Linked DNA regions of Homo sapiens: region 1 is linked to region 2. The links come from fine-mapping of genetic effects on plasma protein levels. Region 2 holds a variant in brackets. A gene starts in the other region. All regions are shown on their forward strands. Region 1 holds the start of ENPP5 (ectonucleotide pyrophosphatase/phosphodiesterase family member 5). Region 2 overlaps SOX6 (SRY-box transcription factor 6).

The links. PIP is the chance, under the fine-mapping model, that this variant and not a neighbour inherited with it causes the effect. The UK Biobank Pharma Proteomics Project read protein levels with antibody pairs (Olink). The fine-mapping took linkage between variants from a reference panel, not from the people measured, so its PIPs are less certain.
Region 1: ENPP5 starts here. The variant in region 2 is fine-mapped to the plasma level of the ENPP5 protein (UK Biobank, PIP 0.99).

Annotation. Positions count from the first base shown.
Region 1 is chr6:46,163,197-46,180,600 of GRCh38, forward strand. ENPP5 (ectonucleotide pyrophosphatase/phosphodiesterase family member 5) reads right to left here and starts at 7,784. Exons shown (of 5, transcript NM_001290072.2): 1 at 7,612-7,784; 2 at 6,857-6,918; 3 at 4,238-5,101; 4 at 2,191-2,367. The coding sequence starts at 5,066. RefSeq lists a silencer at 7,956-8,015.
Region 2 is chr11:16,341,959-16,353,086 of GRCh38, forward strand. All of the region lies in intron 1 of SOX6 (SRY-box transcription factor 6), which reads right to left. Among named protein-coding and RNA genes, the nearest start is that of SOX6, 9.0 kb to the right of the region's middle. The variant G/A (reference allele first, on the strand shown) is at 4,990.

The DNA.
Region 1 (17,404 bases), not on the chromosome of region 2:
GGCCCAATAATTTGCATTTCTTTTTTTTTTTTATTATACTTTAAGTTTTAGGGTACATGTGCACATTATGCAGGTTAGTTACATATATATACATGTGCCATGCTGGTGCGCTGCACCCACTAACTCGTCATCTAGCATTAGGTATATCTCCCAATGCTATCCCTCCCCCCTCCCCCCACCCCACAACAGTCCCCAGAGTGTGATATTCCCCTTCCTGTGTCCATGTGATCTCATTGTTCAATTCCCACCTATGAGTGAGAATATGCAGTGTTTGGTTTTTTGTTCTTGCGATAGTTTACTGAGAATGATGATTTCCAATTTCATCCATGTCCTTTGTAGGGCATGTATACCCAGTAATGGGATGGCTGAGTCAAATGGTATTTCCAGTTCTAGATCCCTGAGGAATCGCCACACTGACTTCCACAATGGTTGAACTAGTTTACAGTCCCACCAACAGTGTAAAAGTGTTCCTATTTCTCCACATCCTCTCCAGCACCTGTTGTTTCCTGACTTTTTAATGATTGCAATTCTAACTGGTGTGAGATGGTATCTCATTGTGGTTTTGATTTGCACTTCTCTGATGGCCAGTGATGATGAGCATTTTTTCATGTGTTTTTTTGACAAACCTGAGAAAAACAAGAAATGGGGAAAGGATTCCCTATTTAATAAATGGTGATGGGAAAACTGGCTAGCCATATGTAGAAAGCTGAAACTGGATCCCTTCCTTACACCTTATACAAAAATCAATTCAAGATGGATTAAAGACTTAAACGCTAGACCTAAAACCATAAAAACCCTAGAAGAAAACCTAGGCATTACCATTCAGGACATAGGCATGGACAAGGACTTCATGTCTAAAACACCAAAAGCAATGGCAACAAAAGCCAAAATTGACAAATGGGATCTAATTAAACTAAAGAGCTTCTGCACAGCAAAAGAAACTACCATCAGAGTGAACAGGCAACCTATAAAATGGGAGAAAATTTTCGCAACCTACTCATCTGACAAAGGGCTAATATCCAGAATCTACAATGAACGCAAACAAATTTACAAGAAAAAAACAAACAACCCCATCAAAAAGTGGGCGAAGGACATGAACAGACACTTCTCAAAAGAAGACATTTATGCAGCCAATAATTTGCATTTCTAACAAGCTCTCAGCTGATGTGGATGCTGGTGGGCCAGGGAACACACTTTGAGAGCCACTGCTTTGGGGCATTAGGGCTTAACTATTCTGGCTTAGGTATACAGTGGTCAATCTTTAATTAATTATTGAATCATTAAACATAATATAAATTGAGTATTATTAAGGTTTTCTATCAAAAATAGAGGTGACCAATCTATTGTGTAACTGTAGTTCAGCAAACCATTTCTAGAGGGCCCTTTGAATTTATATTAACTTTAAAATACAAATCTTGCCAAAGATAGCAGTCCTTTGTTGAGCAAGCCCTCTAACATAAGAGCTACCTGCACAAGACATAAAAATATGAACATTGGTTTATGGATCATTATCTGTATGTAAAAACTGTTTATTTTTTTTTTTTTGCTTTTTTTTTTTTTGAGACAGAGTCTTGCTCTGTCGCCCAGGCTGGAGTGCAGTGGCACGATCTCGGCTCACTGCAAGCTCCGCCTCCCAGGTTCACGCCATTCTCCTGCCTCAGCCTCCCGAGTAGCTGGGACTACAGGCGCCCACCACCATGCCAGGCTAATTTTTTGTATTTTTTTAGTAGAGACGGGGTTTCACCCTGTTAGCCAGGATGGTCTCGATCTCCTGACCTCGTGATCCACCCGCCTCAGCCTCCCAAAGTGCTGGGATTACAGGCGAGAGCCACCGCACCTGGCCAAAAACCGTTTTAAGAACCAGAAACCATGTATCTGTATACATCTGCCACTATGAGTCACGAGCACACTACAAATGCCATTGTTCAGGCATCTGCTTTTCTTTTAATCAATAAACATGATAGAAACCCAATTCTACCTAAAGGGACATTTTGTATATATCTTTTACATATCAAGGACCAATATCTAAAAAAAGCATTTTTAGATAAGTACGAAAACATTGTAGTTCCTTAATATTCAAGTAACAGACAGTAAAAATATCAATCAATAAACTGCTGTATTATGTATTTAAACTGTTGTATTTTAGCAAAAAGTAATGCAGAATGGAAAGAAATACTGTAACATACTCACACAGAAAGTCATCTGACTTATTCTGTAAAATGTGCCACCCTTCATCAGCCACTGCTATGATTGGTTGAATTCGACTGTTGTATTTGTAATGCCACCTTTCTGGAACGTCTTCTTTTTTGTAAACAGTAAGATTAGGATGAGCGTGAGTTAGTGCTTCATAGACTTCATCAAATTTACCTAAAGAGAAGGGAGGAGAGGCACTCAGAACAAAATACTCATAGCTACCATCAGCCATGGGCAACAGACTTGCTACGGAGGTGAAAAACCAGAGAGCTGAACATAAGAAAAAATTCTTTTTCCCCTTGGGGAAAACAATTTTGGGAGGGGAAACTAGGAAATAATCTTCTGTTGTAAGTTCACCTTATAGAATTAAGGAAGGGCATTTTATAGAACCAGAAACCTCTAAAGACTTCAATACACACACATATTAATTAGTGACACTATGTAAAATGTCTAGGGTACTGCAATACCCAAATAAAAATGGCTAGGTTCTGGTAGTTGTGAGTGCAGACACGAAGAATCTCCAGACAAGAAAACATGGTGAGGGGTGGGTGAGGGCTGGGAAAAGAGGCTGGAGGTGGAAAGCAGTTTGTAAAATGGAAACATCTGAAAACACTGGAGGTGTTGCCAAAGTACTCCCTATAACTACAAATGCGGTTACCCAGGCACTGTCTTTCATCCTCCTGTTTTTCAAATCCATTGCTGAGGTTGCATCCTTATCTTCTGCACCGCAACAAGAGGACATCATTCCAATTTTATAAAGGAAATCGAAGGGTTAATGTAATTTTCTCCCCTTCCATTTCCTCTTCCCTTCCCTCTTCCCTTCCTCCTTCCCTCCCTCCTCTCTCTCTCTTTCACCCCCTTCTCTTCCCTCCCTCTCTCTCTCTCTTTCCCCCTCAGTCTCTCTTTTTCTTTCTTTTTTTTCTTTCGACTGTGTCTCCCTGTCGCCCAAGGAGGAGTGCAGTGATATGATCATAGCTCACTGTAACCTAGAACTCCTGGGCTCAAGCAACCCTTCCACCTCAGCCTGGGACACAGGCATGTGTCACCACACCAGGCTATTTTTTTTTTTTTTTTTTTTAGCAACAGAGTCTTGCTATGTTGCCCAGGCTGGCCTCAAACTCCTGGCCTCAAGTGACCCTGCTGCCTCAGCCTCCCAAAGTGCTGAGATTATAGGCGTGAGCAACCACTCCTAGCTAATTTTCTTAAACCAGAAAAAAAGTGCTGTTTGCTGAAAACTGTGTGTGTAAAACACACACATATTTTAACATTCGCTGTTTCATATGATTCTAATTCCCCTCTGAGGGATGGAATTCTCATTTGTGAAATATTATAGCTTTTCAAAATCTGTTCTCTCATTTGATACCTAAGACCAACCCTGCAAAGTGATAAAATATGTCAAAGAGCATGTCTGAGTCATGTTGTCACTTATTTTGTGACCTCAGGATGTTAAACCTTTTGAGGTCACTTACCTGTCATTTACTTCTCTTTAAAATGGAGACAATACTGAGGTGACAGGTTTGGTATAAGGATTCCAGGAGAGGTTTGTAAAAAGTTTAAGGTATTGTTATTACTTTCCACATTTATAAGGAAAATAAACCTCAGATTGACCAAAGCTCTTTCTCCTTCTTATCTTCCACAGCTTCCTTGTTAAGCAGGTCCAAATTAGGAACCTATAAAAGGCTTTGGGGCTTCTATGAAATAACTGTACATGCATTCAAGTTTTGTATGTATCTTTCCATCTCAATTTTTCTGAGAAGGGAGGCTATAGCTTTCATAATATTCTATGGATCCAAAATGGTTAAAACCTACTGCCATACATACATAGAGCACATCAATTTCAGTATTCTAGGAAAAAGGAAAAAAAAATTAGGCTTTGAAAAAAGAGATTTTGTCTTTTCAGAGTCTGAGGATTAAATCCCAGAATATTACCATGACACAGGCAAAGTCTACTTTAAAGGCGCAGCAACAGAAATCCCTGTTCATTTGATCACACTGGGCAAATGCACATCTAGTCTCAGCTCACCATTCATTCAGTCAGCCTTACCTTCTTTTGGCAAGATGGCTGCTACTGGAGATTGATCAATCAGGGTATAGTGGTCTTTATCCAGGTACTGGTCAAGTTCTATTAACCTTTCCTCAGAGCACTGCGTCATTCCATGATCACTTGTGATGATTAGGTTCAGAGTGTTCCACAACTTTGCCTTTTTCAGCATTTGTATGAGATATCCTAACTTCTTGTCAATATCTGAAATGACAGGCCCCATGAGCGGACTGTCAGGTCCCAAATGGTGGCCCATGTCATCAGGGTCTTCCCAATAGAGAAGACCAAGATTTATGGGCTCTTTTGACGTAAACCATTCAATAATTTTGGCAACTCTATCTTCAAATGAAACTGACTCATTGTAAGGCATGTAATGAGTAGGAAAGCGCTTATGTATTTTTACATCTGTTCCGGGCCACATGGCTGCACCACTAGTATGTCCTGCCCTCTGGTTTGTGATCCATATTGGTGTCGCTTCTTCCCAAAACTTGGAATCATAAATATTCATGTGATCCAAGGAGAAAGATTTGTTCCGAATAGGATCAAACATATCATTTGCAACAATCCCATGATTCTCTGCAAAGAGGCCAGTTACCAAAGTATAATGGTTAGGGTAGGTTTTTGTAATAAAAACATTAGTAACTTGCTTCACGTGAACACCATATTTCATAATATAATGAAAATGGGGCGTTGGAACTTTATATAAGTAATCCCAACGGAATCCATCAAAAGAAACTAGTAGAACCTTTTGCTGGTCTGGTTGGAGAGAAAAGGTGGTTGAAAGACTCAGTGCAGCAAGTATGAAGGACACCAAGAGAAATTTCGAAGTCATTTTCAAAGTACTTGATCAGTTCAGTGTAAGATAATCTGTAGAATAAACATATAGAAATTAAAGGCAATAATTTTGTTTTGTATACTTTACCCCAAACTCAGAGTAACAGTGCTTAGCAATCCTAGTTATATTCATAAATCACAGCCTGGAAGAATTATGTCACAGAACTCCGTATTAGATAAGAGACCTGGGGCTAAATGAATAATAAAGCTAATAAGTTTAGCTGCATTTAAACAACTTTTTCACTTCTGAGAATTTATCTAAATATCCCTCAAAGGAATTATTTAAGTGAGCTCTTCAACAGCATTTTAAAATATGACATCATTTACATAAAACTTTTAGAAACATTTTCAGGTTGATCCAGACTTTTGACTTCTGGTCAGAAACTTTTTTATAGTCAAATACCTGTGAACATCCTTAACATTATGGCTAGAGCAACTATGGCAACCTAGCAACAATGAAGTATCATTAGCAAATCGAATAATGGTGCATATACATATATATTATATATATATGTATATGCACACTTCTATTTTCAACCCCTATGTTTGGTTAATCACAGACAAAAGATGTATTACTAAAGAGAGAGGAAAATAGATGAATTTGGTTTCTTGAAGTGAAATAACATTTGTGACATCCAGATATATTTATTGAAAAGTAATCTGCATTCATTTATTAATAATCAAATCACAGCATTCGTTGAACTAAATAATTAGATTCTAAACTAAATATTAACAGAAATATAATTCTGAAATTTGTTGTTGACTTTCCTAATGTTAAAATTTGTCAAAATTTAATCTTATCATTGATAGGTGTAGTAAAAGCACTTCCCTGGTTTAAAGCTCTGTGAATCAAGGTTGCTGGTCTTTTCCCCTAATCTGTGTATATTTCTAAAATACTTTCATTCTATTGAAGAAAGCTAATAAGACGCTGTATGGATAAACAATAGATATGTAAATTTTGTCAGTTTTCATCAGGCGTGCACATCCAGCAGGGATCTTTTGTTCTCTCATTTTTCTACCCATTCCTGCATGAAGGTATTTATAAACCCACCAAAACTTAGATCAAACCACACTTGTACAAATAAATCTCTTGAAACTGCCTTTTGATATCTTCCTAAGCTGAAGACTTCTTTTTTTTTTTTTTTTGAGAGGGAGTCTCACTCTGTTGCCCAAGCTGGTGTGCGGTGGCACGATCTCAGCTTACTGCAACTTCCGCCTTCCGTGTTCAAGCAATTCTCCTGCCTCAGTCTCCCAAGTAGCTGGGACTACAGGCGCCCGCCACCACACCCAGCTAATTTTTGTATTTTCAGTAGAGACAGGGTTTCGCCATGTTGGCCAGCCTGGTCTCAAAACTGCTGACCTCAGGTGATTCACCCTTCTCGGCTCCCCAAAGTGCTGGGATTACAGGCATGAGCCACCGCAGCCGGCCTGAAGACATTTTTAAACTTCAAAAATATATCCTGTTTCACCTTGCTGTATTATAGGTACAGGTAAATAAAAACTACTTGGCATGCTTGCTTTGCTTTCAGAAATACAAGGTATATGTACATTGTGGGTATTCGCTGAGGGCAATAAATTCTGTTTTGCTGGTTTTAAACTGTGTTTTCACCATACCTAGACATTTCTTAAACTGAAATTGTTTTAGGTATTGGTCTCAAGATGATAGCTCAAATGTCATATTTAAAAACGATTTCTTGGATGGCAATACTCTCTCTGATTCTGGAAGGAACATTAAACACAGTTGCAGCAAGGAATAGCAAATAGGTTACTGCAAATATATTTACTCACCTATCTGGCTATGGATGGTAGTTGCTCTCTCTGTCCTTTCTCCCCCTAATTTTCTCTCCCACCTTTTTAAAACAAGGAAGGCTAGTATCAACCAAATGTAATTTAAGGCTAAAAGCAGAGGAAATAAACTACATGGAACACCTCATTTTCATCTATCTTAGCAAATTAATTCGGCACATGTGTAAGCAGGAGAAAACTGCTTTCTTGGGACCAACAAAAGTAAGCAAAGATTAAGTGTTGTCTAAAGCTTAGGAATGTTTGGCAAGAAGACTCAACATCACATCCATGACACAGAGCAATAAACAGAGGTGGGGGGTGGGGAATGAAAACAATCAGAATTTTTTTTTTTTTCGTGCACAAAATGCTGCACAAAACAGTGGAATCCCTGGATCTGGCTCCACATTTCATTGAGTACTTTCCAGTTCTTTCTCCCCTCCAACCCTTCCTCCACAAACAGACTTGGAGAGCAGGAAGGACGGGGCACCGATTAAACGGAAGAGGGAAAGTGCAGAAGGAGTAGGTTTGTGTAGCTCGGGTAGACGTCAAGGGCGGGGGTGTCCATCTTCTCCACCAGGATTCCATCCTAGCCACCCAGAATGGTCGCGGCGTAGGTTATGTTCCCAATTCCCAGTCATCCCGCCCACCGAGGCCTGGGCTTCTTAGATGTGCAGTGGCAAGGAGGGGACGTTGCTTTAGGGACCCAGAGGAGCAGTGTGGGTTCCCGGGAGGGAAGCCACCCACGCCCCTGGACTCACCCTCGCAGCGATCCGTTCAGTCCGTATTAGTTTGGAGCAACGGGAGGGAGGGTCTGGAGGAGACTCCCTCGGGCGCGCCGCGGGTAACGGCGGGAGGGTGACTGGAGGAACGCCCCCGGAACGCGCAGGAGCTCACCTGCGCTCAACTCTGGAGCGGAGCACCTGACCGCGCCGCTTCCCCGCCCCGCCTCCTGGCTTCTATTGGCTGCTGCAGAGATAGTCACTTCTGCCTGGGTTGCCCCCGAAAGCCAGGCTCCCAGGAGTAGCTGCACGGCCTGTCAATCAGCGGGGGCAGGGGCGGGCGCTGCCTGGGTTTGGAGGGTGGAGGGGGAGGGGACTCCCGGGGGCAGGGACCCATCTGGTAGGGCGAAGGCGTGGGATGGCCAATTGCTTGGTCACACACAAAACCTTCCGGCAACGTGCCTTTTCCAGGGGACCAGCTGTGCTGGAGTCAGTGATGCTGAGAGATTATTGCGTGTTACCCCAATGGTGGGTGTACTCTAACAGTCACTGTTTTTTGTTTAAAAGCGACTTGTATTCTCTGATTTCTTATCCCAGGCTTTTTTCCTTCCCCCGCCCCCCGCCCCCTGCCTTGTCACGAATTGGCGATGGGGCACACCATGGGCTTTGCTCTGAGGAACACCTGCACACCCGAGGATGCCAATGGGACGATGAAGTTTCATTCTTTTTATTAGTGGGTGTTATCTGCTTTACCTCAGAAAGAATTTATTAACCTAGTCAACTCTGCAGCCCCAACGTTTGCAGTCCAGGTTTTTGCAATTGAGGTCCCTGAGGTATATTTGTGGTGTACCTAGCATGGCACCTGAAATTGTGCGAATTAAACCAAGACAGGTTCAGAATTAGGTTAATTTGCACAGGAGAGAGGCTGAACAGCCACCCTCTCTGGTGGTGGCATCCGAGCTCCAGACTCTGTTTCTACCTTTGTTTGCAAAGTAAACATTAAAACTACAAACATCAGGCCTGATTACTCTTTCAGAAAGCCTTCAGTGCTTCTTGTGTGTTAGTGCCCCTATTTTGTCTTTTTCCGTACTGTAGTGGATTATTTTCTCAGTTTTTTTGGGATAATCAATGGCATTTTTAGGCCTGAGGGAGTGTAGGCAGGTACTTAGTTTGCCAGTATGATCCCAACTGTCTTTACCATAAATTATAGCAGTGATATCAAACTACCCTGAAAGAATTTGTCCATCTACACAATCCCAGCTAGAATTCTGACCTAATTAGAATTCTAGTTCTATCTGCAGTAGGCAATAATATCAGGTTGATTGTTACAATGTAAGTTTAACATCTAATTAGCTGGTAAAACTGGGAGCATATCTGCAATGGTGGTTTTGGCTCCTGCCCGGAGCTCGGATCCCTTGTCTGGTGTGCTGGAGCTTTAAAGTGAATAGAGATATCTGTTGATATTTAATTAAGCCATGCAAACATTTTGGTCATAGCTTTTTCTCTGTCTGCTTCTAATAGAGGGACAATCTCAACCCCAAACATTGTTACCTCCTAACTGGGTCATCCCATCCCGAAGGGCATCTGGGCACTCTTCCATGGCCTTTTATTCGTGGTAACTTGAGTTTATGGTTTTCAACACGTGGGATGGGGATTAAGAGGGAGGCTGGTTTCTATGTTTAGTGAGACCCAAACACAATGAAGTTGAACAAGTTGTTCCAATTCCCCAAAGCCCTGTCCTTTGAAATTGCCCAAACTTGGAACAGAGTGGTCCAATCTTGTAAGTCCTTGTCCCCCAGAATAGGTCAACTCTGTGCTCTCCCAAAACACTCAAAGGACAATGTACGCTTATCAGAGAGCAGGAGTGGTGAAAATGGGCCTGACTTTTGTTCGGATCACTGAACATTGTTGGACTCTGTTTGGATGACAACCTGCTTTGCTCTGCAAATTTTATGGAAGTTATGATTATATTCACCAGCTATTCCTGTGAAATAGGCATGGTACAGCTGGTAACCACAGTGCACAACACAGAAAAGTGCTCATAAGACTGCCAGATTCCTCCCAGAAGTCCATATAATGATATCTAATGTTCACCTGATAGGCTTGCTATTACCTTATGTTGTTCATGGGGAGAAAGTCTGGTTTACATAGTATAGAGGAATGAATGTAAAACATGAGATTCCTGCTCCCACATCTGCACCTGCCCTCCTGTCTTATTGTTGCCTCAGTATCTGTCTATTTGCAATAGGTTTTCAGAAAGTTTTAGCAGCAGAAACCACAACCTGCTATTGACTGTAACTATTCTTTTATTCTCTGTTATTAAATTAGTGGAATTCTAATTGAATAATAGTGTAACAGAATAACCAACTTCTTTCTTTCAAAGGTTTTGGGGTCAGGTGGGGAGGGAGATCCCTCTGCCTCCCCAAGGAAGTCTAATACAGGTTGAGAGAGGGACAATTTTCTTCGTCAGGGGCTGGAAGAGCTTTGTGCTAAAACTGAAAAGGGATCTGTTCTTTAAGAAACAACCAGAACTGGCTCTACCACAGAAGTCTTGTTTTTCAGAACTAGACTTCATGATAGGAAAAATAAACACATAATTTTACAATTAAAAAATTTTAAAGGTGCATTCCAGTACATTATACCACAAATGACTAAACTAAAAGAAAGTTCATCTTTTAATCCTTTGTAGAACATTCTGCAAAATGTGGGTCTCACATATTCAATGGCCATAGATAGGAACCACTGGGATTCTGCTTCTGCACTGCTCTTAATTCATGATAAACAGTGGTCTTCACTAATCTTGACTCATTAGCAGAAGTTCAGTCCAATGAGTGAAATGTTGAATTATAGAATAGTCAAAAACTTAGCCCAAGAATTTTTATGCATATTAATAAATTAGGCTTCTAGTGATATGCTTGAACTAATTAGAATGAATTTTGTAGAAGCAATTATTATGCTTTTATCCTCAGAAAGCTTTATATAAGTCAAATATAAACCTATTTGTATTGTTGTATTCTGTAAATTGTATTCATAGTGTTTTAGTTCTAGGACTGCCTTAACAAATTATCACAAACTGGGTGACTTACGACAAACAGAAATGTATTCTCACATAGTTCTGGAGGTCAGAAGTCTGAAATCAAGATGTATTCAGGGCCATGCTCTCTCCGAGACTCTGAGAAGAATCCTTGCTTGGCCCTAACAGCTGCTGGGGATTCTGGTATTCCTTGGCTTGCTGCAGCCTAGCTCCAATCTCTGCCTCTCCTGTCACAGGATGCTCTACTCTGTGTGTCCCTGTGTCACGTGGCCTTCTTATAAGAACACCAGTCATTGGGATTAAGGCCCTCTTCAGCCCAGTATGGCTTCATCTAAATTTAATTACATATGCAAAGATCCTACTTCCAAATAAGGTCACATTCTGAGGTTCCGGGTGAATGTGTATTTCGGAAGGACACTTATTCAACCCAGTATATATAGCTAGCAGAAAGTTTAATTTTATGGCCCAGCCTAGATCAAAAGTTGATGGATTACTAATAAAATGGCTCAAATCAAGGTAACTGACAACATCTGATACTGACAAGGATTCAGAGCTATAATATATTGCTGGACTATCATACACTGCTGGTGGGAATGGACTTCCACTATGGAAGTCAGTTTTGAAGTTTCTTATAAAGTTAAATATACACGTGACATACAACCCAGGAATCTCACTCCTGAGTATTTATCTAAGAGAAATGAAGACAGACGTCCACTGAAAAACCGGTCAACAACTTTTTACAGCAGCTTTATTCATAATCATGTAAAGCTAGAAACCATCCAAATGTCCCTCAACTAGTGAATAAACAAATTGTAGTGTGTCCGTAAATGCAGTACTGTTTGGCAGTAAGAAGGAATACAGAACTCATGCATGCAACAACATGGATGAATCTCAAAAGCGTTTTTCTAGGTGAACGAAGCCAGACACAAATGGCCATACACTGTGTGATTCTGTTTATATGATATTCTAGAAAGGGCAACAATGGAAATAGAAACCAAATCAGCATTTGCCAAGGACTAGGGGTGAGGGGAGGGGATTGGCTAGAAAGGGGCACAAAGAATTTTTTTATGTGATAGAATTTTGATTGCTTTTGTAGTCACATCACTAAGTTTGTCAATATTCAGAGAACTATGTGCCTAAAAATGTTTAATTTTACTGTGTGGAAATTATACCTCAGTAAACAGCAGCAACAATAAATAAACCCTACCCTGCGATAATACCTCACACCTCACCAAAGTTCACAAATTGGTGCTGGTGGTGTTTGACTCTCAGTGGCCTTTCCTGTGTGTACGGGTGTATACCAGTTCTTCCTGCAGGGTGTGAGTGCTTGCAAGTGCAGGAGCTCCACGGGGCCTGCTCTGCTGGGTGTCATTCCTTTTCCCTCATGAATGAAGTCAGGAAACTATGAAGTAAAACCAAAACAAGGCTAAACAATTATTTTCTTTTTCTTTTCTTTCTTTCTTTCTTTTTCTTTTTCTTTTCTTTTTTTTTTTTTTTGGGATAGAGTCTTGCTCTGTCGCCCAGGCTGGAGTGCCGTGGTGTGATCTTGGCTCACTGCAACCTCTGCCTCCCAGATTCAAGCAATTCTCCTGCCTCAACCTCCCGAGTAGCTGGGATTACGGACACGCGCCACCACACCAGGCTAAATTTTTATATTTTGCGAATCACAAAGTCAGGAGTTCGAGACCAGCCTGGCCAACATGGTAAAACCCCGTCTCTACTACAAATATTTTCTAGGCCATAACTGAATGTCATTTGTTGAATAACTAACTCAGTGCAGGATGCAGTCATATAGCAGGAGAGATAGTCATCTTTTGGTGTTGGTTTGAGGCCTATTTTGTAAGACATATTCTCAGGAGCCAAATACGAAACTGCACATGTGTTTGTGGTATATGGGGTGAAAACATTTTGTTAAAACCACATTCTCAGTTCTTTGTAAAGCACATAACACCCCTTAGATGCCTGAACATACTTAGTTTAACATCACTATTTAAAAACTTATTGGCTCCTTATGGGTATTGTAATTCTGTAAATTTACTAGCAGTGGGGGAGGACCTAAAAATATTGTCCTCTATCCAGATCAAAAATACATTTTTCCACTCTAGGTATTTGCACTTAAAATGTAAATGTAAATATTCTTTGCAACAATTTTGTAGCTTGAGGTTGCACCAAGGAATTCTTTGGTAAGTGTGAATCTTTATGAACAGGCCAAGCAGGCAGCAAGTGCTTTATGCCTTTAAGGTGTTCTTGGCAGGGAAGGGGCGGGGGATGTCATGGGAGAGTTCTCCCTGCCCAATTCCTGGATGGTTGCAATTTCATAATTGGAAATTAATCTCTTAGCCTTAAGGCTTTTCTCTCAGGAGAGATGTCATATGCACCACCTCTATTAGCTATTTATATACACGTGTGTGACTAAGGTTGTCTGATTCGCTCCAATTTGCATAATTGGTTGGGGAGAAAAGCCCTTAGAAGAATGCAGGTGGGTTCTGTCTTTCAAAGGTTAGTAAATACAGGGGGCAGCTCTAGAGGAAAGTGAAAACAGAAAAAGGAAGGGGAGCAGACTCTAAGCTGGCATCCCTCATAATTTGCTCAAAGCTAGTCCTGTTCTTTGCCCATCATTAAGCAGCAGATCACTGTAGGGAAGTCCGAAGTCATAGGCAACAGAGGAACCTGGCTTATGAAGGTGCTCTGATTTGACCTTTGTAAAATTTTGAATAGCCTTTCATCTAGAAAATGCATGTAATGTATAAAATCCTTGAGAGCTTTGCTATTCTTCTAGTCACTTTCATCCTTACTCCTCCACACCTGTTGTCTGATTCCACAAAGGACTCCATCCTCCCACACCTTGCTTGGGCAATCTCCTGACCTATATACTTCTCTGCTTTCTAATGAGAACCCTATTTTGTAGGAAAATCCATTCAGTGTGAATGGATTTATGCTGATCTACTCATCTATTCTTGCTAGGACATACTACATGTTGGGGTTCTTTGGCCAGAGTTAGCTGTTCTAGTCATGGTGATGGGGCTGTTTTAAAATAACAGGCTGATTTAACCCGTTATTTTATTTTATTTTATTTTTGAGATGGAGTCTCCCTCTGTTGCCCAGGCTGGACTGCAGTAGCGAGATCTCAGCTCACTGCAACCTCTGCCTCCCAGGTTCAAGCGATTCTCCTGCCTCAGCCTCCCGAGTAGCTGGGATTTTAACCTGTTATTTTTTAAAAAAACAAAACAGGTTTATTCGTGATTTGCTTAACATAAAATGAAATGTGATTCATTTAATATAAATTTATCGATTTGAATTATACAATTCAGGGTTAACTGGCATTTTAAGGCCTCATTGGCCTGTTTCAACCAAGTGATGTAACTGAGAATGATCATCTGTGGAATCACTGAAATGTTCATTTATTCACAGGGTAATCATTGAGTCATGATTCTATTTTACACTCATATTGTGCTGCTGGTTTTTGAAATCCATTTTGAAGATGGTCAACAGCATTACTGAGTTCATTTCTCATGGCCGCACACTATGCTCAGTGAGAATTGGTGGCTTAACCAAAGCTGCATATCTAAACATTTGAAATCAGGGAAAAATAGAGTAAGTTCTACAACAGAGGAACAAACAAAAGTGATATAGAAGTGCATGGGACAGAGAAATTAGCTCTGACTGAAGAAGACATGGGTATTCCACCACAGAGGTAGGAATGGAGAGTCTGGTATTGAAGCAGAGCCTTGGAAGATGGTGGGATTTCAACGAAGCACGTGAAACAGAGAAGACTGTAAGAACATGCACCTGGTCAGAGGGCCCAGGTGTGCTTGTGAAGGGCCTAGAAAAACTGGTTTAGGAATTTGGGGTCAGTCCTGTGGGCAGTGGGGGGCAGTTGAAGGTTCTTGAGGAGGGGCATGTCATGACCAGAGCCACGAACATAATTCCTGAATCACAAGTGGTGCGAGGTGGCACAGTAGTTTAGCACCTTGACATTTATTTAATATCAATCTGTAATTGATATTAAAATTAACGTTGCTTCTTTGACTATCTCCTTTGGCAGGAACTACCAGTTGTCATACCATACCAAGGCTAACCCATTCTTATGACCTTTCTACTGAAAAATGTAAAGCACTTTGGCTTTTTGTTTACTGCATATTGAGAGGCAGTGAGCATTTCTCTTCTTGTTTCTTCTTGGCAACATCTATTAGCCTGTTCCTAATGCACTGTGTGGCATAGCTTATTAGGTTGTGTTTTTGGTGTTACCCCAATTTTGGGATATGAATCTGTCATTAAAACACAGCCCTGTGAGTCAGAAAAAATAGACATGTTAGTGTGAATGAATGTATACTTTCTGGTCATTTTGAGAGGTGACATCATTGTCATATACTATACTTTTTTTGTAATATTTTGTTAATCACAAAGTGAATAGTGAAGGGGATGGTGTGCAAGACAAGGGAAAATGTTGGAGGGGCATTTCAAAACTTGCCAGAGTGTGTAGTATAATTTCATTGAAAAAAATGATAACAAATCAACTCCACTAAACAACTGTATGTAGGAGTAGGAAGAGTAGAAAAGAGATGGGTGGCAGAGAAACAATTTTAAAGCCAGAAAAATGGTCTGTATGGGTGGTGAAGGTATTATAGTATGAAAGGAGTACATAACAATATTACTAGAATTATAATAACAATGCTTATTAATTAGTGGCAACCAAATAGCAGACACTGTGCAAAGCAACACATACTCCTTATGTCACTTAGTTCTTATCATAACCCTGTGAAATACAAATGAGTCTTTTCCTATGCCAGCTCAGGAAAGAAAATCCCAGAGAGATTAACTCACTGAAGATCACTCAACTAGTAAATAGCAGAACTGGACTGCTCATTAATCTCAGTAAGACCCAGAGGGGAACACGAGAGAGACATTCTGGGGACAAAGTTGATCTTCGGACTGACACAAACTTAGGTCCATAGAAACCATGCCCTGGGGGTTACTGACAAGTAGTCTGTGGACTTCATGTCAGAGTTGGGGATTCCAGATTCTCCAGGAGGTCCTCAATGGTAGAATCTGAACAGTGGAGAGCACAGTAGAGGAGTGTCTAAGCCCAGTTTTGGATCCATGAAGGGAAGATTTAGTATTTTGACAGCCAGTGGAATAACTCATTTCTATTATCAGGCCATGTGGGGATAGGGAGCTCTCGCAGCCTCTTCCTTCAACAGTCAGTAAACAGAAATGGTGTGAGAGAGACAAGCAAACAAGACTGGAGTTGCCATCCAGAGATGGGCACCCCTGTGATGGACATGGACCTTGGTATTAAAATGACCTTGGTTGAGGATGGCTGCTCAGTATTGAAATAAAAGGTAGACAGACTCATGAGTAGGGATTTGAAAACCTTGAAGGGTGGTTTATAGGAGGAAGCATGGGCATCAATAGTCAAGGCAGCATGATCATGACAGAATTGAGAGAGAGAGCCCTGGACTGCCTAAGTGAGGATCAGTCAATTCCAAACTATTTAATACTAAGGTGAGTAGCTGCTGTGATCCTAGCCCTGTGATGGGAACTGAGAAAGGTGGATACAGGGAGGAGTAAGATATACTTCCTGACTCCAAAGGGATGGAAACACTGCTTAAAGAGATGACACAAATGCACATGAAATCATTACAAATGGAAGAAAATTGTATTAAATCAAACACTAAATTGATGCTTTTTGAAGGTCTCATTTTTGTTTGGGGAAGAGTTATCCCTCCAATGTCTGAATGCTCAATAACATTCTGCCTTCCCAGTTCACCCTATTTTCATTTCCCTCTAAGCTGCTATGGGCTTTTTTCTTTTAGGAGATTCCACTACTAATGAATGCTTTGAAGAAATAGTATTAGTTTAGAGAGGAACAGTGGTGGTCACAGGACTGTCTTGGGAGGGGTTTTAGGCTACCTCCCATAATCTTCTTTATCACTTGTATAAAATCTCTATATAGAGCTTTGGGCAGAGCTTCGAGCAGCACACTTGATTGTCCACTTTGTATGGAAGGAAAAGTGACCTTAGGTAGCAATAGGTAGTGGCGAATGATTTGGCTAGTTTGTTCAGGGCCTGGAAGGACCAGAATGGGAAGAGTGAGGACAAGGAGGCAGGGGAAAGAGATATGTGGGCCCTATAGTTGGTGGGCACCAAGCATGCAGATCTGTCTGTCTTGTGGTGATGCCCAGCAAGCCTCTTTTGCAGAAGGGGATCTCAACCATCAGGTGGACAGGATGAGTAAACCTGTGGATGTCAGCCAACATTTCTTCCTGGTTATTGCAGTACCAGTGCAATTTGGCATTCAACGGTGGCAGGAATAGAAGTATGCAAACACCTAACAGAATGGGATTCAGTTCACAAAGGGCTTATCTAGCCAGTGCTGAATGTCAGCCTCAGAGACTGATGCTAACCCCTCAATTGAGGAAAACAGCAGCAATTTGTCCTTACCAGAGGTTACATCTACACCAAGTATGATTCAACACTTCAGCATGCCTGATCTATCAATATGGGATCTCACAACATTTCCTCAAATAGGGGACCAATTTTGCTGCAAAGGACATACAACAATGATTACAGGATTCACTGGTTCCACCATATATCCCATCACCCAGAAGCAGCTGGCCTAGCTGAATGATGCAATGGGCTTAAAGGCTCAGCTAAGTGGCCCTCTCCGAGAACACATTCTGAAGGTTAGAGCATGATCCTCAATTTTGGGGTATATGCATTGAAATAAGGACTGATACATGATGCTCTATCCTTAATGGTTAGAAAACAGGTCTGGTAACCAAGGAAATAGAAGTG
Region 2 (11,128 bases):
CATTTGAATTAAGTATCTGAAATAGCTATACCTCTATTTTATATTAGGAAGTATATACAAGATTCGAAGCATTTACCATGAAAATAGTAAAATGCCTACTGTGCATAATATTTAAAACCTCCAAATACAATATTGAACATTCATTTATATGCCCACAAATAAACATTGACTACACGCTACATGACAACGTCTCCATTCTGTGCTCTCATATAAAATCAGAAAACCATGATTATTAAATAGAATTTCAAAATGTTTAGAATATCATTTTATTAAGATGAATTTCTTGGCAAAATGGTTAGAAAATAAAACCACTGAAAGTGTATAACTTAACAGAAGAGGGAATTGAGCACTTTTCTAAAACTTTACATTGTTTTTAGTTTATTACATCTTTAGCTCTAAAACTGCTGTGTAATGAAAGGAATAAAATCTCCACCTTAATTGCTATTTAACATTAATTGATTTCATACCATTTTTTAAAAAATGCACAAATCAGTTAACATAGGAAACCACATGAGCATTTTTCAAATTAGCAAATCATTAACTTGCTAGTACTGTTTCTACAGACAAATAAATACTGATTAAAGGGTCTAGAAATCTGAGATTAACAGTTAAATTTACAAATCTGTCACACGCTTTCATGAATATTGCAGTGAAGGAAATATCAAGTGCAAAGAAAAATAATTAAGTTAATTCCAATTTAAACAGTAGTTTTTATGTAGCAGCCCATGTTTCACATAGGATTTAACAGCTAATGCTAAATTTCTCACAATTAATGAGGGGGCTCAGATTTAGTATCCTACAGTGAAAAAAATTAATATAAGATCAGCTAATCTAATTATGCGCAGTTCAAAATAAAAGTATTACAGGCTTTTGAAGTGCTTTGAAACATATTAAAATGCTGATACCAATTTATAATAATCATTCTACAAGTAACAAAAATTGTATCTATTAAATTTGATACTAGAAAATAAAATGGGGGAAAGGGAATGCAAAAGAATGCCTATAATTTCTTTGAGAAGAAATGAATTAAATGTTCTAAAGAGTGCTATATCAATAAATCAGATATATTCTTGATCAATTTATATCAATAATAACAAATGGACAAACATATACACAATTATGAAAAATGGTAGCCAATGGATGCTTCTTAGTATAAGAGAATTGCTGTATGGCTTACTTTACCGGCCCCATAACTACTATTAGTAAAACCAGGCAAATTATAATTGTTCTGCAAGTTTATCAAGAGCTTGCCACAAACAAGGGTGATTTCCTATTTCAGATACTGACAATATCAATAATCATTCACATTAAAAACAAAAGAATGAATGTACTTCTGCTTTTTAAAATAGTTCAATACAATTGAAAGTCATGATCCAAAAATCAGAGTGACTTTACTTCCCTCAACAAACATCCTCTTATTATAAAGTGAATTGGCTCCTTCCAATAGCAATGTCTATGATTGTTGCTTCAGTTTAAATTAATCATGACAAAACTCAAAATGAAAACAGTCTCTTAAGAATAATTTCAACTATAAACTGCACCAGTGAACAATAGTGCACAATCCTAATTAAATACAACTCTGCAGCTGTAAAAATAGACTAAATCTATGAGTTGAGTTTAAAGGATGGTTTGTTAGAATGTTTTCTTAAGGAAGGCTGGGTCCTCAGTCTTAATCAGCCAATAAATTATTTCCTGCAATTACATTAAATAGAAAATTATCTTCAAATGGGGAGTGTTAATTGAAAATCAAAATTCAGAGGGAAGTTTAGAAATTACACGCTGAATACAATTAGTGAGGAAAGGCTTCACCTCTACTTCATCAACAGTCTTCTGGTGATTCCTCCAGTGGCCATTCAGGAATGCTACCTATTTATAACATCTCACAATTTGTCTTTTATTTTGCATCTACAAATACATATGTGTATCAAGGTTGCAAATAAAACACAAGCTGCCAAAAAAAGCAATATTAAATCTGAGTGTTCATTCTCAGTTCACACTATCGTTAGAGGAAAAGGAGACAGGGGAGGTAGGACAACAACGGTTAACAATCAAGAAAAACACACTCAGTTTTGAAATCCCTTTCCTTAGCAAAGGAATTAACATTTTTTGTTCCAAAAATACTTTTCCAAATCATATAATTTCTTGTTTTTACTTTATTATAGTTCTCAAATGCATTGCTAGTGGTGAAAAAGATGGGTTTTGTTTTTAGCAAGGTATTTCCTTGAGCATTTCCTTTTGGTAGAATTGTTGGGGTTTTTTTGTTTACATCTTTTTTTTACATTTGGTCTTGTTGTTGATTTTTGTTTTGGGTGGCAGTTTTGAGTTTTGTTATAAAATGTGCACAAATTGTTTTTAATGCAGTTTATTAAATAAACTTTAGATTTGCTGATTATTAGATCTGATTCACTGATTTTTTGCATAAATACTTTATTAAATAATCCTGATGACATCTCATTCATTTCTTTAGCTTTCCCCTTTAAAACATTTTACTCAACCAACCAAACTGTATTCTAGAAGCTTCAATGGCACTTGACTTTTGGTAATGCCTTTACTATAACCACTGTACCATAGTTACTCTCCTTTAGAAACTCATAAATCAAATATACCCATGTTTCAGTGTTTTAAAATGTCATGTGGAATGCTTACATTTATTTTAATGCTCAGTCAGTAATTTTCCATTGCAAAAATTTTCATCCCCAACATATTAAAACAGCACCTTACTTTAGCTGCTGCCTTATATGACTAATAAGTAAAAGAAAATCAAAATCCTTGTGGAAATGGTCAATTTCGATGTGACTTTACTTTGTTTTATTTTTGCACTATTATAACTTAAAAATCATTCAAATGAATTGTTTTTTTAATTTGTATTAAAAAAAAATCTCCCTAGTTATACCCCCTGAAAACAGGGGTTTATAATGGAAGTGCTGACACAACCCTAACTAAAGCAGCGCAAATGTTGCCGCTATAATACACAAAATCAAGTTCTATTATTCTAAACTATCCTCGCTCATGGGATTTTTCTTTACTGTGCTCCCAGCCAAACTGCTGAAGCATGAAAAATTTAAATGCAATCAAATGCGCCCAATTCTACTTTACTAGAACAAGTGTCTACAGTGGTACAATCTTAAAAGGAGATGCAACAGATTTGTTTGGTGTTTTTTTTAACTGTTTATTTATAATACAGTGCATTGGAGATAAAATAAAAGAGGAAATTACACTCACATGGTACCAGTGTATTGACTACACAGAGTACATTATAATCAGAGAGAAAAACTACATTGTCAACTTATCACATTGGTTAAACAAGATGGTTTTCTGGGGCATAACTATTATCAAGTAAAACCTTCAAAGAGAATTATATATCTTTGGGACACATAAAACTAAATTCCCATCATATGTTCCCTGAGTTTAAAATGTCTCTGCCCAACAATCAAGTGAACTCCCAGGATGCCAGGCCATTGGGAAGAACTTCGGGCTTAGGACTTTTGGAAATGAGATTGCTGGAGATAAAGCCTCCAGTTACTGAGAATGTTCTCTAGGAAGTCAGTACGAACACCTCTAGAAAGGTCATAATTATTTTACTCCAAAACACCAGTACAAAGTCTGAATGTTTGGCCTACTACAAACTTACTCAGACAGTAAATTTATTTTCTGTTCTGCAACAATAAATCAAAATTAGTTGGCCCAAGACTTTATAAAATGATGAGAATGCTGGATATGTGCACATTAAGTCTTCTATCTCAGAATATCATATTTTCTAGAACTTTTCTGATTTGACATTATTCTTTAAAAACAGTTATTTTTATGTGTTTAAAGTCAGGATTATTTTTAAACAACTTCAAACTTTTAAACTTTCTCATAAGGCATAATCACTCAAAATTACATTTTTTTATTATAGCTTGAAAAGTATCCATCTTTCAAAACTGTCATTTGAAGCTTACATAATTATCAAAAAGAGCCACTGAATTCATCATAGCAATATATTTAACTGAATTTTTGAAAATATTTCCATTATTTTTATGATTATTATCAAATGGCATTCACTTTCCAGGTGTGTTACATTTATTCAAAAAAAGTCCTGTTTTTAACATAAAGCAACATTTTAAGAGTTGTTCTACTTATTCAAAAAAATTAAAACTTCAGGCCAACATTCCCATTTATTTTTGCAGCTCAGCCCCAGGCTACCAAGGTAGACTCATTTCATCAGATAATTCACTGTTAATATAATGCTGTACTTGAGCTGATATTGAGAAATAAACAACTAATTTTCCAAAAATATATCACAGTGCCTCTCATCTTAAGGAACATGAGTAACAGATATGTTTAGTTGCCAAAATGCACAATACCCAGGAACCTCTACAAAGGACACCAGTCCACCCAGCCTAGGGCAAAGAATGATTTTAAAACCCTCTTCTTCTATCTCTAATTTCCACATTCAAGGATCTTGGGGAAGGGAGGATGGCATGGTACATCCTAATTCTAGACATTAAAATGAAGACATTCCTTTTAAAACATTCCTCAATTCATTCCAGTAAAGTCGGAAGGTGCTTACTAATTATTTGTATTACTTTATACAACACCACCACCTCCTCTCCCCCAATCCACCTCCAAACTTCCCTCTGCTTCTGCCAGATTTTTCTATTTCTTCCATTAAGTAATTAAGAAAATTCAGGTGAAAAGAAGGTAACTGTTTTCAGAATTACCTTGGAAAGTTATAAACCTATCTTCTAGAGTTTGTAGCAGCACTTTCAGAACAGATATGGTAACACATGAGGACAGTAACTATTAGAAGAAAACTCACTGATTAGAATTAGCTGTCAAATCAATGGAGATGAGGTAAATGAAATACATTTGAAGCCCTTGAAGTGTGTCTAAGAAAGTGCTTAAATTAATGGATTCTGACTTTTCTAAGGGTCCAATTTTTCACAGCAAAGCACCAAAATTGTCTCCAAAGGCCCTCTGAGCTTCTTACAAAACAAGAACTACCTG[G/A]AACAGATTCTTCTTAAGTCATCAAAGTTTGTGTTTCTAGAGTTTATATTTAGCTGACAATATTGCTGTCACTTTATGTAGCTTAAGACTGTTCTTTGGACTAGAGCTCATATGTCTTGGAATGCTTTGACTCATGAATTGTTTCTCCTGATAATGTTACATCACGTAACTACCTCTGTCTAATTGGTTAGTATCTGCTGGAAGAGACAGGCAGCCAGCCTAATGACTGGCCTGCTGACTGACTGCCTATGGAAAACCTATAATTATTAAGTGTCCCTGAGTATCTGGTTTCTTCCTGGGATCAAAACAACTTGACTTCATGTAACCTCTATCTATACTTTTTGCTTGATATAAATAATATGGTCTTCTCACAGTTTATCTACCAATAACTTTTTGGAATTTTTGCTTTGGAAAGCCAGGCCCAGATTTTATAAATAAATTCAGTGACTTAACAATAAGAGTAAAACCTAACAATGGCTACTATAAATATACACTAACTTAGAGGATTTTAATCTAGCACAATGACTTTATAGCTCAACGAAAGACCTCTGTGTGGCTGGAGTGAAAGAAAGCTGTCTAAAATAATAGCAGAATGAATTTATTTATGTAAGTTCACTTTGAATTTCCTCTTCATATAAAATGAGAACTACAATTTTTTAAGTGAATAAACAGACATCTCTCTGTCAGCGTGAAACTGGCCCATTAATATGGAAGCCCAAGTACAGGATATCTTATCCAATTATATTAATAAAAATCATAAACCAGAACAATAACTTCTCAGAGACAAAGTGTAGGAAATTGTCACTGTATACTTTTCCATCCTTAACTCGAATTTCCCTCTTCAATATTTCCAGAAAAAAAGAGAAAAATGAATATTGATACTTTAGATTGTTTCAAAATATGAAAATTCACACAAACACTGAACAAATTTATATAAAGAAACTAATCTCTGAGGTCCTCCTTTAGCTAAATAAGGCAATCTACCAAGTCCACTCTTTCATGTGATGAAATAAGGTATAAGTTTCAGGTTCCTATTCAAAGACAGACAAGAAGAAGAGAAAGAAGAGGGAGGGAGGAAGGGAGTGAGAGTAGAAAGGGAGGGGAAGAGGAGGGGAAAAGGGGAGAAGGTAAAAGGGGAGGAGAAAAACAACCATGGCTTTGCAGTTCATTTTCAGTTTGTCTACTTAATGAAAACCTCATTGTACAAGCCTGAAAATCATTTCCAGCAGGCAAAGTACTTCTGATTCAGCAGAGGTTACACAAGCATCAAAGCAGTTAAATATAGGTGCCAAGCTGCATTGCCAGGAGCTCTTAGTACTGTGAGTTAGTGTTACCTGACAGCTTAGTGAATATAAAATTACTTGTTTCTCCAATTGAAGACAATCAAATTGTCACCTTCCATTGTAATAATGCACAACTAGTGATCAGCAAAGTGCAAACATAATTACCATGAAGAAAACAAAATATCAAATCTAAATTTTTCAACAGAGGAAACACATCTATCTTCTTCCCCAAAAAAGGAGTGCATTTTAATCCTGAAGGCTATGATGCAATCTTCATGTTATTTAATAATAAGATTTATTCATCTTAAATTAAATAAAAATGAAAAACAACAAGAAATACTAATTCATAAAAAGTGACTACAAATATTAATAAGAGCACTACAACTTTCCAGACATTTCCAAGCACAAAGACCTACAAATTATATCACTGCCATTTGAACCTATATCATTAAAGGGTATGTCAGCGCATTTTCCATTATAAAAACTTTGTTTTTAGAGATGTCTTTCTAGCCTAGCAACCTTCCTGAAGGTTGAAAAGGACAGGCAGGATTCAACTTCAAAAGCTTTTGTCTTAATTTTTCTTTAACAGAGAGTTACGCTTCGTTTTCGTCTTCTAAAGTAGCTTATATTTTTGATGCTGAAAATTCATCTCATGAAAGTGATTTAATATCTCTACACAAGTTTAGAAAAATAACCAAGCATAGGACACATATCCACAACTGTTTTTCAGACACTCAGCATCTAGAATTCTCATCCAAATTTGGTGACCATATTGGCTCACTACCAAAGTGATCTCAGTAACCTGAAGCTAAATTAATATTAAAGGACTGAAAATTTGACATGGTTCTCCCGCACTCCAAAGATTCCTAAGATACAAATTAAAATGAATATAATTAATATAGATAATGCTCCAAACAAACTGCATTTTAAAAGCTCTCTTAGAAAAGTGATTTTATTTCATAACTAACTCAAGATTTAAGACATTCAAATTTATATCATTCCTTCTAATACAGCAAAAACTCTAATCATTCTCCAAATACTCTAAATATAGGGGCTTTTTCCATCAATAATGTCATTTTTATCAGAAAATATGTCCTACAGCTAGGCCTGCTGAGGTGGCTCATGCCTGTAATCCCAGCACTTTGGGAAGCTAAGGCAGGTGGATCACTTGAGGTCAGGAGTTTGAGACCAGCCTGGCCAACAAGGTGAAACCTGTCTCTACTAAAAATATGAAAATTAGCCACCCATGGCGGTGCGCGCCTGTAATCCCAGCTCTGCAGGAAGTTGAGGCAGGAGAATTGCTTGAACCTGGGAGGTGGAGGTTGCAGTGAGCCAAGAGCGTGCCATTGCACTCTAGCCTGGGTGACAGAGCAAGGCTCTGTCAAAAAAATAAATAAATAAATAAGAAGAGGAAAGAAAACAGAAGAAAGAGAGGGAGGGAGGGAGGAAGGAAGGAAGGAAGGAAGGAAGGAAGGAAGGAAGGAAGAAGGAAGGAAGGAAGGAAGGAAGGAAGGAAGGAAGGAAGGAAGGGAAGGAAGGGAAAGCAAGCAAGAAAGAAAATATTTCCTACAGCTAATGCCTGATATGCCTGACATTCCATTTTTACCATATGCCTGATATGCCATTTTACCAATATTTCCTACAGCTAATGCCTGATATTCCCATTTTAACCATTTCATTTTTGAAATATTTCCTATAGCTAATGCCTGATATGCCTAATATTCCATTCCAATTTTAGAACAGATACTTCTGTTCTAAATAACATCATTTATGATCATTTAACACAAAAATAGACCAGTTTAGCAAAAAAGGGGGAGGCACTGACTACACCAGGGTGACAGTGAAATGAATTGAGGCTCATCAAGAGCATAGGCTCTCCTGAGCTTGAATCTTAGAATACAAATCCAGACATTAGAATAATGCTTTCATCTGGTATCAGTCTCAACTGGTGTTCCTCAGTCTTGCATTGTGTTCCTCTTTCTCCATTCCTCTATTTTATTACGAAGGAGTAGAGGAAAGAATGAGATGAAGACATTGGTTGAACATCGGTGGCTAAATCAGAAGGAAAACAAGGATAGCAAGCGACAGGAGAAAGGGGAAGTCCAGTCTCTAGCTGCACGTTTTATTTTGATTTGAGATAAACTTAACATCATTAAGAGAAGTGTCTGGGTGTAAGAAATAAGACGGTTTTAGAAAAACATCTTTTTCCTTGTTCTTAGAACTTTCAAATAATATAATACAATTTTTTCCAAGAGACACTTCTTATAAGCTCAGCACAATAAAAACCTCCCAGGCAAAGGGGATTGCAATCAGTATTTCCTAAACTTCGATGATGAGTAATTTAATCAATTCCTGAAATTATACTCCTACAGAGTATTTATTACAATATACTAAAATAAAAAGTATCAACGAGAGGAAGAAAAGGAAACTTCTTGTCAGAGAACATCTTTCAGACCCTGGGAGATAAATGCTTACATAGCATAAGCTCATGGTAAATGGGTAAAAGGAGAACTCATTAAAATATTTTGTTTAATTAAAAAACAAGTTAATTCTGTATATTTCATGAGGACAGGGATCATCTGTCTTGTTCATTGCTGGATCCCCAGTGCCCAGCACAGTGCACAACACATCGTAGACAATCAATACTATGGGAATGAGGGAGGAAAAGGCAGAGAGGGAGAGATAGGCAAATAGCTTATTGTTTTAAATTAAAGTGAATAGATAATCACAGAAAATACCACTCCATGTTAATACTGCCAATCTAAACATTATTATTTCTCTATACTGTTTTTATCAAGCATCTCATTAAGTCATAAGATTATTATATCCATATCCCCAACACTAAACTCTCTCATCTCCCAGAAATCCAACAGTCCTCAAATGACTGTTAAGTATTTATACCAAGATATGCTCTGCAATTTCATATTAAACACCTTAAAACTAGATTCATCACTATTTTCCTCAATACCTCCCCTCATTCATCCACACCCAGAAGAGTACCACTGTCAGAATCATCAAGGTTCAAAACATGAACACTCTATCCACCTCCTCATTTTTATCCTTGCTTCTCAATGCCAGCCAGTCATGAAGCTCCATCAGCTATTCTTTAATGTTTCTTATGCTCATCTCTCTTACCATACTTATAATCACCTTAGCACAGGGCTTTTTCACACCTCATACCTAAACTCTTACAACAGACCCTAAACTACTTTCTCTATTTTAGTATCTCCTCCACCAAATCAATCTTAACTGCTACTCCCTTCATCAAGCCACTCTCCTGATCAAAAAACATCAGTGGCTCTCCCCTGATGACAAAATAAAGTCCAAACTCCTGACCCTGGCACTTGAGGCCCTCCATCCAGATACAACCAATCTTTATACATTTATCTTCACCAGTCAAACTTCACTTATTGTTGCCTCCTAGCCTTTGCTCTGCCTGTCTCTCCCTATTTTCCTCACTTTCCTTTCTTAGTGTTAGGAAACCAACTGAGACTATTCCAGTTAACTACGATCTACCCCTCTTCTAAACACCTCTAATAAGATCTGTGAGAAATTACTTTTTATATCACTCATTCAACACTTAATGGATATTACCTCACATAATCTTTTAAAAATGTATAATATCATTATATTTTCTAAGTAACCCCAACCGCATTACAAACTTCTCAAGGGTGAGAACAAAATCCTAGCTTTCTCTGCATTCCCACAATACCTAGAACAATGTTTTGTGAAAAGAAACACTCAGTAAATACTTCCCAATTATTTAAATATTATTGAATTAATAGGCAGAAATAAATTTAGGGTGTTATCTTCAACCAGAAAAAAGTAGCCATGAAAAAGGACTTAAAATAAACTGGTTTCTGGGGGTGTCTCCTCTTTGCACACACTCTGGACAATAAATTCACCTCATATTTTAAAAGTTCTGCATATTCCCTGGCAAAGAAAGCCTCCCAAAATAATCAATTTATGTTGTCAGAAACATAAAAAAAGATGGATAAATGAATGAACCAATGGGCAGATGATGGATGGATGGATGGATGGATGGATGGATGGATGGATGGATGGATGGAAGGATGGATGGATGTTGAAGAGATGGTTGAAAAGATACATAGATAATTTTTACTAGATGCTTAGAAAGTACCAGGCAGGCACTGTGCTAAGCACTGCTACATGTATTATTTCATTTAGTTCTTAGAGCAACTCTAGAAGTTAAATAATGTCATTATCCCTGTTTACTGATAAGAAAGCCAAGGCACAAAACTGTTTATTAAAACAATAAAAATGAAAACTTGCTTAAGGTCATACCTAGTAAATACAGAGGGCAAAATTTCAACTCAGGTTGGTCTAATGCCAGGGCAGATGCTATTAGAATTAAAAGTGTCTGAAATCTAAATTAAATAAATTATTAACTATTTTCAATTATTATCTGAATTATTCTTTACTAATTTATACCATTCCTGTAGAATTTTATTTTGAATATTCTGGTTAGATATTCTAAATACTCATTTAATCAGAGCTTAGTAAAAGGATTTGCTATCTTTTTCTTTTCTGTGTACTTCTACAGTTTGAGATATGTAATTACTAGTTAACAACTTTAAAAAAGAGAGAGAAACATAGAGCAGGTAATTCTCTAACCAATCCTTTTAACTGTCATTCTGGGCAATTTGACAACAAAATTGGTTGAGGAAGTAGTTAAAGCTACTGACACACAAGGCTGAGAGGTTCACTGCAGTTTTTACACAGTAATTTTCTAACAAATATTTGTTGGTTGTTAACTATCCATGCTTTTCCTAGCATGCTATTTCTGGTTAGCCTAGATGATCAACATTTAATTATATTCTTACACAGACAATTAT